Linked DNA regions of Homo sapiens. The protein of the gene in region 2 interacts with the protein of the main gene of each other region in a pairwise test. Each region holds a gene or a part of one and is shown on either strand. Other genes may lie near its edges.

Region 1 (6,967 bases), on a different chromosome or scaffold from region 2:
CCTGTCTTATTCACTGGGGCGTCCTTGTCAAAATAACAGGTGTTGAAATTTGTGAACTAATCTCTCAAATTTCCTGTGATGTTACATTACATATAGATCTCGTGAACAGCCTGAATTTAGATAATACCTATAACCAAGTTAGTTTGTGTGATTCTCACTTGGGAAAGAAGGATGTTATCAGGATCCTTTTTTTTTTTTTTTTTTTTTGAGTTTCACTCTTGTTGCCCAGGTTGGAGTGCAATGGTACGATTTTGGTTCACTGCAACCTCCACCTCCCAGGTTCAAGCGATTCTCTCGCCTCAGCCTCCTGAGTAGCTGGGATTACAGGCACCCACCACCACGCCCAGGTAATTTTTGCATTTTTTTTTTTTAGTAGAGATGGGGTTTCACCATATTGGCCAGGCTGGTCTTGAACTCCTGACCTCAGGTGATCTGCCCGCCTCCCAAAGTGCTGGGATTACAGGCATGAGCCACCGCACCCAGCCGCGTTATCAGGATCTTTATCCCTCAAAGCAGCCTGGTCAATTCTTTTCCATTTAGGGAAGAAATAAAGAGACAGAGAAGGAGTGAGAGCATTTTATTGCCTGACTAAATCACAGAACACAGAGTTTCCTAGGAATTGCATGAGGTCAGAAAGACAAATGCAGCTGTTCTCTCACTTTGAACTTAGTTTCTAACTCTGCTATCTCTAGTTATTAAAAATTAAGACCAGTACTAGCTCCTTAAAGTTTTTGGTTCCCTGATAATAGCTAAAACAAAACAAACGAAAAGGCAAGGCAGAGAACCTATTTGGTCTAGCGTTCTTTTCAGCTATATCTAATTAAGAAACAACCCCATGGCCAGGTGCAGTGGCTCAAGTCTGTAACCCCAGCACTTTGGAAGGCCGAGGCGGGCAGATCACGAGGTCAGGAGTTTGAGATCAGCCTAACATGTTGAAACCTAGTCTCTACTAAAAACACAAAAATTAGCCGGGCTTGGTTGCACGTGCCTGTAATCCCAGCTATTCAGGAGGCTGAGGCAGGAGGATCACTTAAACCCAGGAGGCGGAGCTTGCAGTGAGCCAAGATCACACCACCGCACTCCAGCCTGGGCAACAGAGCAAGACTCCGTCTCAAAAAAAAAAAAAAAAAAAAACACAAACCAACCCCATGGAGTTGGATAGTATTCAACCAACACCATGTGAAAGGAAGAGATTTGGTTGGGGCTAAGATAAAGCTGCCAAACAGAATAGGTCTAAGATAAAGCTGCCAAACAGAATAGGTCAGTTGTACCTATCAGATAACTTGGGGTTACTACATCTTATTCCTTATCTCAATGATGGTAACAAGGAAGGGCAAAATGGGCCTGTGGTTCTTAGAAATTAAGAGGGGGTAACATTAAGGGGACAAATGTTTTACTCTGATGCTTGACTTCACCCCAATACTAGTCCAGGCTCAAGTAACACAGGATGGCTTCTGCAAGGATATTAAGCCTTAAACAAAGGAATGAATTTAGCATTAGCACTAATTACATAGTACTTCATTGTCCACTTTGGTACCCCAGTTTGTTGGTCTCTATCCTTGGCTCACACTAGTCATACCGCAAGGAAAACAGGAGATACCACAGATCAGAGCTATAACACCTTACTTTTCTCCCAATCTCCCTCTTATTTCCTTCTTTTTTTTCTCTCCTGCCTCAGCCTCTCGAGTAGTTGGGACTACAGGCATGTGCCACCATGTCCAGCTAATTTTTGTATTTTTAGTAGAGACAGGTTTTCACCACGTTGGCCAGGATGGTCTTGATCTCTTGACCTTGTGATCCACCTGCCTCGGCTTCCCAAAGTGTTGGGATTACAGGCATGAGCCACCATGCCCGGTCTACTTCCTTCCTTTCTAAGAAGTCTTTCTTCATGTCAAAGCCAACTTCTGCCCAGGATCTGAATATTTAGAAATGCATTGTCCAATATAATAGCCACTAGCCACAGGTAGCCAAATTTAAATGAACTACAATGAAATACAATTAAATTTTAGCCCCTCAGCCACACTAGCCATGTTTTGAGTGCTTGACTGCCACATGTGGCTAATGTACTAGACATCATTACCAAAAGTTCTGTTGGAAAGCCCTGCTCTAAAGTAAATTATATTGCCTATATAATCTTCCTACCAATACACTCTTTTGCCCCTGAAAATGACTCCTCCTCTTCACTTCTTAACACTCAAAATGTACCCTCAAATTACTAAAGTATCAATGCATGTCCCATTTTCAGTTATCTTCCTTCTTAGCCTCTCTGTTGAAAAACCACTAGAAAGCATCCAACCCGGAACTTTTTAAAGAACTACTCAACCGTCTTCTTTCCCTCCAATCAGTTCCATTTGGTTCCTCCTCTTACATAACGTTTTCCTCATTGTTTAATTTTTTTTTGAGACAGAGTCTTGCTCTGTCACCCAGGCTGGAATGCCGTGGCACAATCTCAGCTCACTACAAGCTCCGCCTCCCGGGTTCACGCCATTCTCCTGCCTCAGCCTCCCAAGTAGTTGGGACTACAGGTGCCCGCAACCACGCCCAGCTAATTTTTTGTATTTTTAGTAGAGACGGGGTTTCAACGTGTCAGCCAGGATGGTCTTGATCTCCTGACCTCGTGATCCGCCCACCTCGGCCTCCCAAAGTGCTGGGATTACAGGCGTGAGCCACCGTGCCTGGCCTCTTTTTTTTGTATTTGCAATTGTCCTTCATGGTTCTAATTTACCTCCATGGCATAAACTACCTGTACCCCATATGGATTCCCAACTCTCTTATGTCAACCTCTCTGCCTCACGCCCTAGAATTTTGTTTTCACCCAGATACCTGCCAGATTGTCAGCCGTATCTTCTTTCCCTTCCCCCAGCTCCCCAAACCAGGACAACATGATCTCCCTACATCTTTAACCCCACCACTTTCCTACTCTTTTTTTGGGGGGGGTCTCATTCTGCCACCCAGGATGGAGTGCAGCAGTGTGATCACAGCTTGCTGCAGCCTCAGACTCCTGGGCTCAAAGGATCCTCTGGCTTCGGCCCTCCAAGTAGATAGGACTGCAGGCACGCACCACCATGTTTGGCTAAGTTTTTATATTTTGTAGAGACAGGTTCTCACTTTATTGCCAGGCTGGTCTCGAACTCCTGGATTCAAGAAATCCTCTCACCTCAGCCTCCTAAAGTGCAGGGATTACAGGCATGAGCCACTGCACCCGGCTAATTCTCCTACTCTAAAAACCAGTCATCCTTGTCTTTCCTCCTCACATCAAGTGGCCAGGCCTTTCACAATGCCTGTCTTTATTTAGTGCTATCTCTCCTGCCACTACTCTAGCTCAGACCCTGATTATTCTCTCCTAGAAAACTAAATTAACCTAACCCAATTTTTTCCAAAGTGTGGTGTATTCACTGCTATAGTTACTTTAATGTGATTAGGAAAAAACACTAACACATCAAAACTTTGATTTCAAAATAGAATTGTGTCAAGTAAGAACAAAATAAATCTGGAAATGAGTAGATCTGAAGAAAACAATGTAGGCAGCAATGAATATGGAAAAAGCCATCAAAAATGGTAACATAAATGGCTGAAATGTGAGAAACACCATGTTAGTGAATCACTTTGCTAATCTGCAAATTAGTTACCAAATTAATTCTTCTTATATGTTATTCAGATCACAACATATCCTATTCAAAATCTCCAGTGGCATCCCCATTAACTCCAAGTAAAATTATAACTCCTCAGCCTCATTTTAAGACACAACCTGTTCCCTACTCTGTCTAAATCTACCTTTAGAGCTATTGTGGCCTTCTCATCTCTATCAATGCCTTTATTATTTTGTTTCTCTTTAAATGGAATGCTCAGGCCAGGTGCAGTGGCTCACGCCTGTAATCCCAACACTTTGGGAGGCAGAGGCGGGTGGATCACTTGAGGTCAGGAGTTCGCGACCAGCCTGGCCAACATGCTGAAACCCCGTCCGTACTAAAAATACAAAAATCAGCTGGGCATGGTGGTGGGTATCTGTAATCACAGCTCCTCGGGAAGCTGAGACAGGAGAATCGCTTGAACTCAAGAAGCAGAGGTTGCAGTGAGCCATGATCTCACCACTGCACTCCATCCAGCCTGGGTGACAGAGCGAGACTCCATCTCAAAAAGAGAAAAATAAATAAATAATGGAATGCTCAATATTCACTATCCCACAACCCAACTCTGCTTGTCAAAAATCCACTTTTGGAACCCAATAAAAATGAATATGCAAGTTTAACATGTTGGCTGGGCGCAGTGGCTCAAGCCTGTAATCCCATCACTTTGGGAGGCTGAGGTGGGTGGATCACTTGAGGTCAGGAGTTCCAGACCAGCCTGGCCAACATGGTGAAACCTCACCTCTACTAATAATACAAAAATTAGCTGGGTGTGGTGGCAGGCGCCTGTGATCTCAGCTACTCGGGAGGCTGAGGTGGGAGAACTGCTTGAACCCAGGAGGCAGAGGTTGCAGTGAGCTGAGATCAGGCCACTGAACTCCAGCCTAGGTGACAAGAGTCAAACTCCGTCTCAAAAAAAAAAAAAAAAAGAAAAAAAGAAAAAAGTTTTAACATGTTTATGAAGTACCCATTACATGCCTTCTTCCATGAGTTTTTCCAATTCATTCCCACTAGGATCAATCTCGTCCCCTCTACTCAATTCCCATAACACTATTATTTGTGGCATTCATCACACAGTATCTGTAGCTTTATGTATGTTTTCTCTCCTAGTAGATTCTAAGCAACTTGAGAGTAGGAATGGTGCCTCCATCTTTATTTCTGTCTCCATCTTAATATCCTATACCTAGAAGATACCAGGAAGTGTCAGCTGAATAAATGAATCTGAACCTTAATCTCAAAGGCTATGCGGCAGTAAGAAATGGAATGGACAAAAGGAAACGTGAATTTGATATGACTTAAAGTTTTAGATTAAGGAAAACTTCCCTACCTGATTATATCTGTTTAAAAGAAGAGCAAAAGTGTTTTTAACAGATGGAATCTTGCTGTGTTGCCCAGGCTGGAGTACTACAGTGGCTATTTATAGGTGCAATCCCACTACTGATCAGCACAGGAATTTTGACCTGCTCCATTTCCGACCTGGGCCAGTTCACCCCTTCTTAGGCAACCTTGTTGTTCTCCACTCCCAGGAGGTCACCATACTGATGCCAAATTTAGTGAGGACATCTGACCTGCATAGCACACTACAGTGCAGAACTCCTGGGCTCAAGCAATCCTCCTGCCTCAGCCTCCCAAGAAGCTACAGGCAGTACAGGCAAGTGCCATTGCACCCAGCTAAAAGAAAAGCAAATTTTAAATACATACCCTGCTGGGAAACTAAAGTACTAAGTGAACAACACTTACGTGCTTGGATTAGTATAATTCACAGCTATACTATTAAGAAATCTCTGCTGTGTAAATTGGAATGCGAATTCCTTTTTTTTTTTTGAGATGGAGTCTCTCTGTTGCCCAGGCTGGAATGCAGTGGCGCGATCTCCGCTCACTGCAACCTCCGCCTCCCAGGTGCAAGCGATTCTCCTGCCTCAGCCTCCCGAGTAGCTGGGATTACAGGCACCCACCCACCATGCCCAGCTAATTTTTGTATTTTTAGTAGAGACGGGGTTTCACCATGTTGGCCGAGCTGGTCTCGAACTCATGACCTCAGGTGATCCACCTGCCCCAGCCTCCCAAAGTGCTGGGATTATAGGCGTGAGCTACCACGCCCGGCCTATAATGGGAATTTCTAAAATGTTGATATTTAATTCCACAATATGAACCAAGGAAAATTTTACTAGCAGAAATTTATGTATGTAATAAATCATTAGCCTCATATGCACATTATTTGAAATATGCATGATTGGTCATTTTAGTTTTCCCAATAATAATTTATCACTTATCTTATATCCCACTAGTCACACACTAGCAGGCAAATGGTAGCAAGTCTCAAATATGTAAGAAAGGTTTAAAGAAGAAAAAGTAAAAAAACCGTCCAGAATTCTATCCATTGTGTATTTTTCTGTGACTGGAGTTGACATAATTAGTCAATCTTAGCAATAATGTATTGGGTTCACTGGGTGTTCTGAGGATGCACCATTTGAACCACCGGTAAAAGGGTACAGAATGTGTATTGAGAGTCACTTCAATGGCTTCTCAATGACACCACACCAAAGGAGGAATACCTGAAGAGAGAATGGAAACACTGCAGGCAGGATGATTTAAGAACCTGGAAATAAGGAATTTAATCTTGTTCAGCTTGAGGAGTATAACTAAAATTACTATCCTGAGTAACCTGTACTAAATCCATCACTCTGGTAGAATCAGATCAGCTGAGTTTAAATGTCAAGAAAAAATAGACACACACAAAAGTGGCTTTGATTACATAAGTCAGAGGAGGGGGAGCCTACAATAGCTCTTCCCCACATCACACCCCCAAGGCTCCTTCTTAGGGACAGCAACAGCTTTGTCAATGACACAAATGCAGGGTGGCATGAGGTTTCCAGCAGCTTAACATTTTAATTTGGGGTGGGGGTGGAAGAAAATACATAAGTTGCTTTTTGCTCCCCCATCCTAATGCCTTGGGGACCAGCCAGGCTGACCCAAATGGAATCCAGAGCGAGAGTGGGGCCTTGGGTTCCCCGAGGAGTAAAGGGGGCAGATCCAGAACAGAGCAGAAACGGTGATAATTATCTGTATGAAAAAGTAAGGATACTCTAGGTGAGAAGGACTAGCATCAATCTAGATAGCAAACTGGGAAAAAGGAAGAGGAAAAAAAGGAAGAGGTGGCAGCAGGAATAATAAAAGAGAGCCAGACACTTCAGCCTGAGAAATGTGGCTTCTTTTCAGGGTTAGTGGGAAAGATACAAAGAGGCAGATTAGCATCAAGGATCAGGGATCCACAGCAAACAGATGAAGCCCCAACAACTCTTTTTGGTGCTGTTTATCACTTGGCTTGCTTCTGGGACTCA
Region 2 (7,179 bases):
ACAGACCTATACTATACCACAGAACCTTGTTTCTACCACCATTGCCATCTCAAAGAACTGTACCACCACCAGCACCTCTGTGGGGACCACGACATCCTGTTTGCTGAAAATTAAATAAATCACAGTGGGCTGGGTGTGGTGGTTCACACCTGTAATCCTAGCACTTTGGGAGGCCAAGGCAGACAGATTGCCTGAGCTCAGGAGTTTGAGACCAGCCTGGGCAACATGGGGAAACCTTGTTTCTACTGAAAATACAAAAACTTAGCCAGGCATGATGGTGTGCGAATGTAATCCCAGCTACTCGGGAGGCTGAGACAGGAGAATTGCTTGAACCCAGGATGTGGAGGTTGCAGTGAGCCGAGATCACACGCACTTCAGCCTGGACGACAGAGTGAGAATCTGTCTCAAAAAGAATAATAAAGTTAATTAATTAATTAAAATAAATAAATCACATTGGGCATAGAGGGAGTGCATGGTGTGTGTGCAATTCACTAGGACTCTGGTCCCAAAAAGCAGACAGAATTCATGCTAGCATGAGAGGCCATTTATTGTTCAGGGGCTGAGCCCCCCTGTTTTGGGGGGGTTCCTGCACTGCTGCCTCCCCCCATTGTTCCCGTGGACCCCTCAAGTGGCAGGTTGCTGAGATGATCGTGGAGGGAGCACATCTTCAAGTGTAGATGGTCCAGAGTGGCCATCTTCTCCCTGTCATGAGGCAGCGGGGAGTTGATGGCGGCATGGCTAGGTGCTGGGGTGTTGGAGTGGAAGGGGAGATCAGGCCCTTTCCCCAAGATCTCACCCTCCTCCCATGCCCTCAGCCTCCTTCCTCACTCTGGCTTCATCTTGTCTGTCAGCAGTAGGTTCTTGGCCCGCAGGGCCTCGTCTTGGGCCAGCCGAAGGGTGGAGCTCAGGGCCTCTGCCCTGACGTGTTTGGCTAAGGCCTGGCGCTCCAGCTCCTGGGGAGAGGAGCGTAGGCGTAGCTGGGCTTGCTGGACTGGGCTGGGGGTGGAGGGGGAACTGGATTGCGGAGGGCAAAGGGTAGGGTCCCATGGGGCCCACATTTCTCCCTCAGAGTTTCCCATCATGCCTTGAGCTTGAGACTGACCCCAGCATCCCACAATGCACTGGTCTCCAGATTCCGCTGTGGACTAAATCTGTGTCTGTCCTATTGTCTGTCCCATGATGCACTGACCTATGTCCCAGCAAGCACTAAATCAGTGCCTATCGTCTGTCTCCTAAGCTCATGAACTATCCTACATTTGATATGTGTGTGCACCCCAGTATTCTACCACATGGTGACCTCCTACATTCCATAATTTGGAAGACCCCACATCTCCTTATCCATTAGACCAGCACCTCTCACACAAAAGTCCTGGCCGGGCGCAGTGGCTCACGCCTGTAATCCCAGCACTTTGGGAGGTCGACACGGGTGGATCACTTAAGGTCAAGAGTTCGAGACCAGCCTGGCCAACAGGGTGAAACCCCATCTCTACTAAAACTACAAATATTAGCTGGGCGTGGTGGTGTATGCCTGTAATCCTGGCTGCTCAGGAGGCTGAGACACGAGAATCGTTTGAACCTGGGAGGTGGAGGTTGCAACGAGCCAAGATGGCGCCACTGCACTCCAGCCTGGAGCAACAGAGCGAGACTCTGTCTCCAAAAAAAAAAAGGCCGGGCGCAGTGGCTCACGCCTGTAATCCCAGTACTTTGGGAGGCTGAGGCAGGCGGATCACGAGATCAGGAGATCGAGATCATCCTGACTAACACGGTGAAACCCTGTCTCCACTGAAAACACAAAAAATTAGCCAGGTATGGTGGCAGGCGCCTGTAGTCCCAGCTACTTGGGAGGCTGAGGCAGGAGAATAGCGTGAACCCAGGAGGCAGAGCTTGCAGTGAGCCGAGATTGCGCCACTGCACTCCAGCCTGGGCGACAGAGCGAGACTCCATCTCAAAACAAACAAACAAACAAACAAAAAACAGTCCTTAGTGCCCTGGTTCTCTACGTACAACTGCACCAAGCCCCATTTCCTCTCATGTATTAGTCCTATAGCTCGGCCACATCAATGTCCCACAGTGCCTCACTTGTCTGTCTCACCCACTACAACATAATCCTATAGTACATTAGGTCAATATCCCATAATACAGTGCACTAGGGCTCAAGTTCCACCAACTATTGGGCTGAGTGTGTTGTGCAATGCCCCAGGAAGAGCTGTGGTTCCATTTCCCATAACGCATCAGCTAACTGGGGCCTACAGTCACTGGGTCTCCTATTTTACCTCAATATAGCTGACCCCAATGATCTTGTACAATGCACCGCCTCTCTAAAAGTTTAGAGAAAATCAGGCCTATGTTCCATGAAGCTTTAGACTGGTGTCTGTCTCGTGTCCCACAATGCACTAGATCCAACGTCCTATCATGCTTTAGGCCCAAGTCCATCTTCCGAGGTAGCGTAATGATTGGCCTGTGACTCACTCACCACCAAACTGCTTGTCCATCTCCCCATGCATTAGGGCCAAGTCCTCCCCCAGTGCCTGCTGCTCCCAGCTCAGCCCTTCCCCTTCTGCCACACACCAGCAGTACCCTTGAGTCCGGGGTTCCCCTCCCCTTGCCCCAACAGAAAAGTAAAGTGGGACATGGTGGCCCATATTCCCTGGTACCAGAATCTTCTTGTGTAGCCTCTGACAGCTGGGACAGGCAGGAGTCAGGCCCCTCTGCTTCACCTCGTCCACTAGTGAGGTCAGTGCTCGGTCCAGCAGCTGCTGCAGGGACTCCGTAGACAACTGCGACCCCTGGCTGGGGGAGGGGCGGTCACCAGATAAAGAGGCCCAGTACCAACTCCAGGACGCCCCATGCCCCATGCTCACCTGTGGAGCCTCCATTTGGCCTCGTTTCCAGTATGCACCCTATGCAACCTTCCCAGCATGCACTGTGCACCAGCTGTCCCTTGGTTTCCATGGTGCTCTGGGGATCACTACTCCTTTTTTTTTTGAGACGGAGTCTGGCTCTGTTACCCAGGCTGGAGTGCAGTGGCGCAATCTTGGCTCACTGCAACCTTCACCTACCGGGTTCAAACAATTCTCCTGCGTCAGCCTCCCAAGTAGTTGGGACTACAGGCATGTGCCGCCACATCCGGCTAATTTTTGTATTTTTAGTAGAGACGGGGTTTCACCATGTTGGCCAGGATGGTCTTGATCTCCTGACCTCGTGATCTGCCCACCTCGGCCTCCCAAAGTGCTGGGATTACAGGCATGAGCCACCGGGCCCGGCCCTTTTTTTTTTTTTTTTTTTTGAGATGGAGTCTCGCTCTGTCACCCAGGCTGGAGTGCAGTGGCACCATCTTGGCTCACTGCAACCTCTGCCTCCTGAGTTCAGCGATTCTCCTGCCTCAGCCTCCTGAGTAGCAGGTATTACAGGCACCCGCCAGCACGCCTAGCTAATTTTTGTGTTTTTAGTAGATATGGGGTTTCACCATGTTGGCCAGGCCGGTCTTAAACTCCTGACCTCCGGTGATCCTCCCACTTGGCCTCCCAAAGTGCTGGGATTACAGGCGTAAGCCACCACGCCCAGCCAGAGTCACTATTCCTAAGGGCACCAGACAGCCCTCAGTTTGCAAAGGCCGTCAAGAACTAACATTTCCCATAATACACTAGTGAAACTCGATTTCATGTTGTACTGTGAGTCCCCCTTTCCTACAATGGACCTTCCCACAATGGGCCAAAAATGGTGTATCCCTCGGCTCTCACAATACACCAAGGTCTCACTTCCCCCTCAGTGCACTGAAACCCTGCCTCTCCTCATGTTCACATCCCAGCCTTCCCACAATGCACTGGAAATATGATGCTTAAAATGTACTAAGTGTTTTTTTTTTTTTGAGATGGAGTCTTGCTGTCGCCCAGGCTGGAGTGAAATGGCACGATCTTGGCTCACTGCACCCTCCACTTCCCAGGTTCAAGAGATTCTTTGGCCTCAGCCTCCCAAGTAGCTGGGATTACAGGTGCTCACCACCACACCCAGCTAATTTTTGTATTTTTAGTAGAGATGGGGTCTCACCATGTTGGCCAGGCTGGTCTCAAACTCCCGACCTCAGTGATCTGCCCGTCTTGGCCTCCCAAAGTGCTGGGATAACAGGTGTGAGCCACTGCGTCCACCCTTTTTATTTTATTTTTATTTTATTGAGACACAGTTTCACTCTACCTACTAGGCTGGAGTGCAGTAGCGTGATCTCGGCTCACTGCAACCTCCGCCTCCCGGGTCCAAGTGAATTTCTTTTTTTTTTTTTTTTTTTTTTGAGATGGAGTCTCACTCTGTCTCCCAGGCTGGAGTGCAGTGGCATGATCTCAGCTCACTGCAAGCTCCACCTCCCGGATTTACGCCATTCTCCTGCCTCAGCCTTCCTAGTAGCTGGGACTACAGGCACCCGCCACCACGCCCAGCTAATTTTTTTTTGTATTTTTAGTAGAGACGGTGTTTCACCATGTTAGCCAGGATGCTCTTGATCTCCTGACCTTGTGATCTGCCTGCCTTGGCCTCCCAAAGTGCTGGGATTACAGGCATGAGCCACCGCGCCCAGCCTGGTCCAAGTGAATTTCATGCCCCAACTTCCTGAGTAGCTGGGATTACAGGCACGCGCCACCACGCCCAGCTAATTTTTGTATTTTTAGTAGATACGGGGTTTCACCACGTTGGCCAGGCTAGTCTCGAACTCCTGACACCAAGTGATCCGCCCACCTTGGTCTCCCGAAGTGCTGGGATTACAGGCGAGAGCCACCGCGCCCGGCCTGTACCAAGTTTCTCTTGAGTTCCACAAGACACTGATTCTACCTTGTAGAGTGGGAACAAATGAGGCTTCTAGTGCAGCAGGACCGGCTGTTTCTACAATGCACTGGGATACCTTGTCTCCCAAAATGAACAGCGCCCCACCCTTCACTAATGTCCCATCTCCTTCCGCATCTCCTTTAATGTCCTATCCACAAGGCTCCCAGAGGCAAGCCCAGCCCCGTTACCTGGCACAGCGGGCACAGTTGCCTTGGTGGGACCGATCCAGGTTCATGGAGAGGTCAGGCCCTCTTCGAGAGTTCTGAAATTGCCGCCCGAACTCCTCCAGAATGGGTTTCAGTGGGCCCAGCCCCTCCAGTTCGCTCCTCAGTGAAGCCACAGACACTGCTGACCGCTCCACCCTGAGGCATGAGTAACCAGTGCTGCTGGGTCGTCTCTTCAGCGGTATAACCCTGGCAAGACTCCACCCATTATTAGCCCACCACTTGCGTCTCCATCTGGTCAGCAATTCTCCACCCTGCCCTCCCCTCTCTGCTCTGACTGGCCTCACTTTTTGTATTTTACTTTATGTTATGTTATTTATCTGTTGACTATTTTGAGCCAGGGTCTGGCTCTGTGGCCCAGGCTGGAGTGCAGCAGCACCATCATAGCTCTCTGAAGCTTTGAACTCCTGGGCTCAAGCGATCACTCCTGCCTCAGCCTCCCGAGTGGCTAGGACTACCAGGGTGCGACACCACACCACTCCCAGCTAATTTTTAAATTGTTTGTAGAGATGGGGTCTCCGCTATGTGGCCCAGGCTTGTCTTGCACTCCTGGCCTCAAGTAATCCGCCCACGTCGGCCTCCCAATGTGCTGGGATTATAGATGTGAGCCACCTCACTGGGCCACCTTTTGTAGATTACTGTTTGGAATGCCCCTCCTAGTTCTCTTAATTGATTTTCTCGGATCCCACTTGACCCCACCCTTTGCCCTTTTAAGGTATAGACCACACCCCTTCTCTAATTGATTCCACCCCTCAGGCCTTATTAGGGCTGATGCAACCCTTCCTGCTCTCTAATTGGTGTTTCCCGATGTCGGTATATGTTCCGGAATGCCTGGCCATAGCTGATTGGCCTACCCATTTCCCTCAAGACCCCGCCCTCAGGTTGGGATTGCCCTGCCCCTTCCGGTCTTCCCATGCACTGGCCCCAATCCTCACATGGTGCACAGCTCATCCGCCCGACCTCGCAGCTCCTGCAAGTCCCGCGCCGTCTGTGCCTGTTCGCGCTGTGCCCGCTCCCACTGGCCTAGGAAGCCGTCGACCCTGCCGCCCAGGCCCCCGAGCAGCCGCAGGGCTTCCTGCACCGCCCCCTCCTCCTGATGCCACCGGGCGGTCAGTGAGGACACCTCTCTCCTGGAGGGGCAGAGGAGGGGAATGGGTAGGGGCTAGGCTTCAACAGGTCCCCACCTACCCCCACGAGATAGGTGGGACAGGACTCACCTATCTCGCCCCACTGAGACCATGCCCGTGGCTCCAGACCCACCCAGGTCACCAAATTTTATTGCACCCTCCATTTGGTGAAATTTGGTCGTGTCCTCCAGAGCCCCGCCTTTATCCCCTTCCTTTATTGGCTATCTTGGCCCTTTCCTGGTCAGGTCCCCAACCTCTACCTGGGCTCCTCCAGACACTGGCCCCCCAAGGCACTGCCCACCCTACTCTGCCCCACGTGGTGCCTCCAGGACCACTCCTCTCCTAAGCCCCGCCCACCTCAGTTTCACCAGGCCTGGACCTGCCTCCCAGCAGCCCAGAACTAAAAAGTTCCTTATTCTGTCCCTCCCTTGCTCAGGTCACTGCCTTCGGGGCACTCCCTCCTCTGCTCTTGGAGACCCCAGCCTTGTCGCCTTCCGGTTAAGATCTAGGCCGGGCGCGGTGGCTCACGCCTGTAATCCTAGCACTTTGGGAGGCCGAGGCGGGCGGATCACGAGGCCAGGAGATCGAGGCCATCCTGGCTAACACGGTGAAACCCCGTCTCTACTAAAAATACAAAAAAATAGCCAGGCGTGGTGGCGGGCGCCTGTAGTCCCAGCTATTGGGGAGGCTGAAGCAGGAGAATGGCGTGAACCCGGGAGGCGGAGCTTGCAGTGAGCCAAGACGGCGCCACTGCACTCCAGCCTGGGCGACAAGCGAGACTCCGCCTCAAAAAAAACAAAACAAAACAAAAAACGATCTTTGAGGAACCTCCCCTGTGTCCCCGCCCACCGCAGCTCCTGGAGACTCCTCCCGTGTCTCTACCCACCTTCGTTCCTCGAGGCTCCTCCCATGTTCCCGCCCACCTCAGGTCCCCGAGGCTCCACCCATGTCACCGCCCACCTCAGCTACTTGAGAACCCCCGTCCCTTGGGTCCCGCCCACCGCATCTCCTCGAGG

The links. Proteins that work in one complex are often made in the same cells at the same time.
Region 1: the proteins of TSKS (region 2) and TPM3 interact in binary tests that used the Homo sapiens proteins (3 or more experiments, as listed by UniProt).

Annotation. Positions count from the first base shown.
Region 1 is NC_000001.11:154,161,252-154,168,218, forward strand, and holds the end of TPM3 (tropomyosin alpha-3 chain), read right to left. Parts: intron 6,690-6,967; coding exon 6,686-6,689; 3' UTR 562-6,685; downstream 1-561. UniProt on the Homo sapiens protein: Binds to actin filaments in muscle and non-muscle cells. Plays a central role, in association with the troponin complex, in the calcium dependent regulation of vertebrate striated muscle contraction.
Region 2 is NC_000019.10:49,739,231-49,746,409, forward strand, and holds the end of TSKS (testis-specific serine kinase substrate), read right to left. Parts: intron 6,167-7,179; coding exon 5,972-6,166; intron 5,175-5,971; coding exon 5,001-5,174; intron 2,791-5,000; coding exon 2,655-2,790; intron 954-2,654; coding exon 829-953; intron 703-828; coding exon 546-702; 3' UTR 530-545; downstream 1-529. UniProt on the Homo sapiens protein: May play a role in testicular physiology, most probably in the process of spermatogenesis or spermatid development.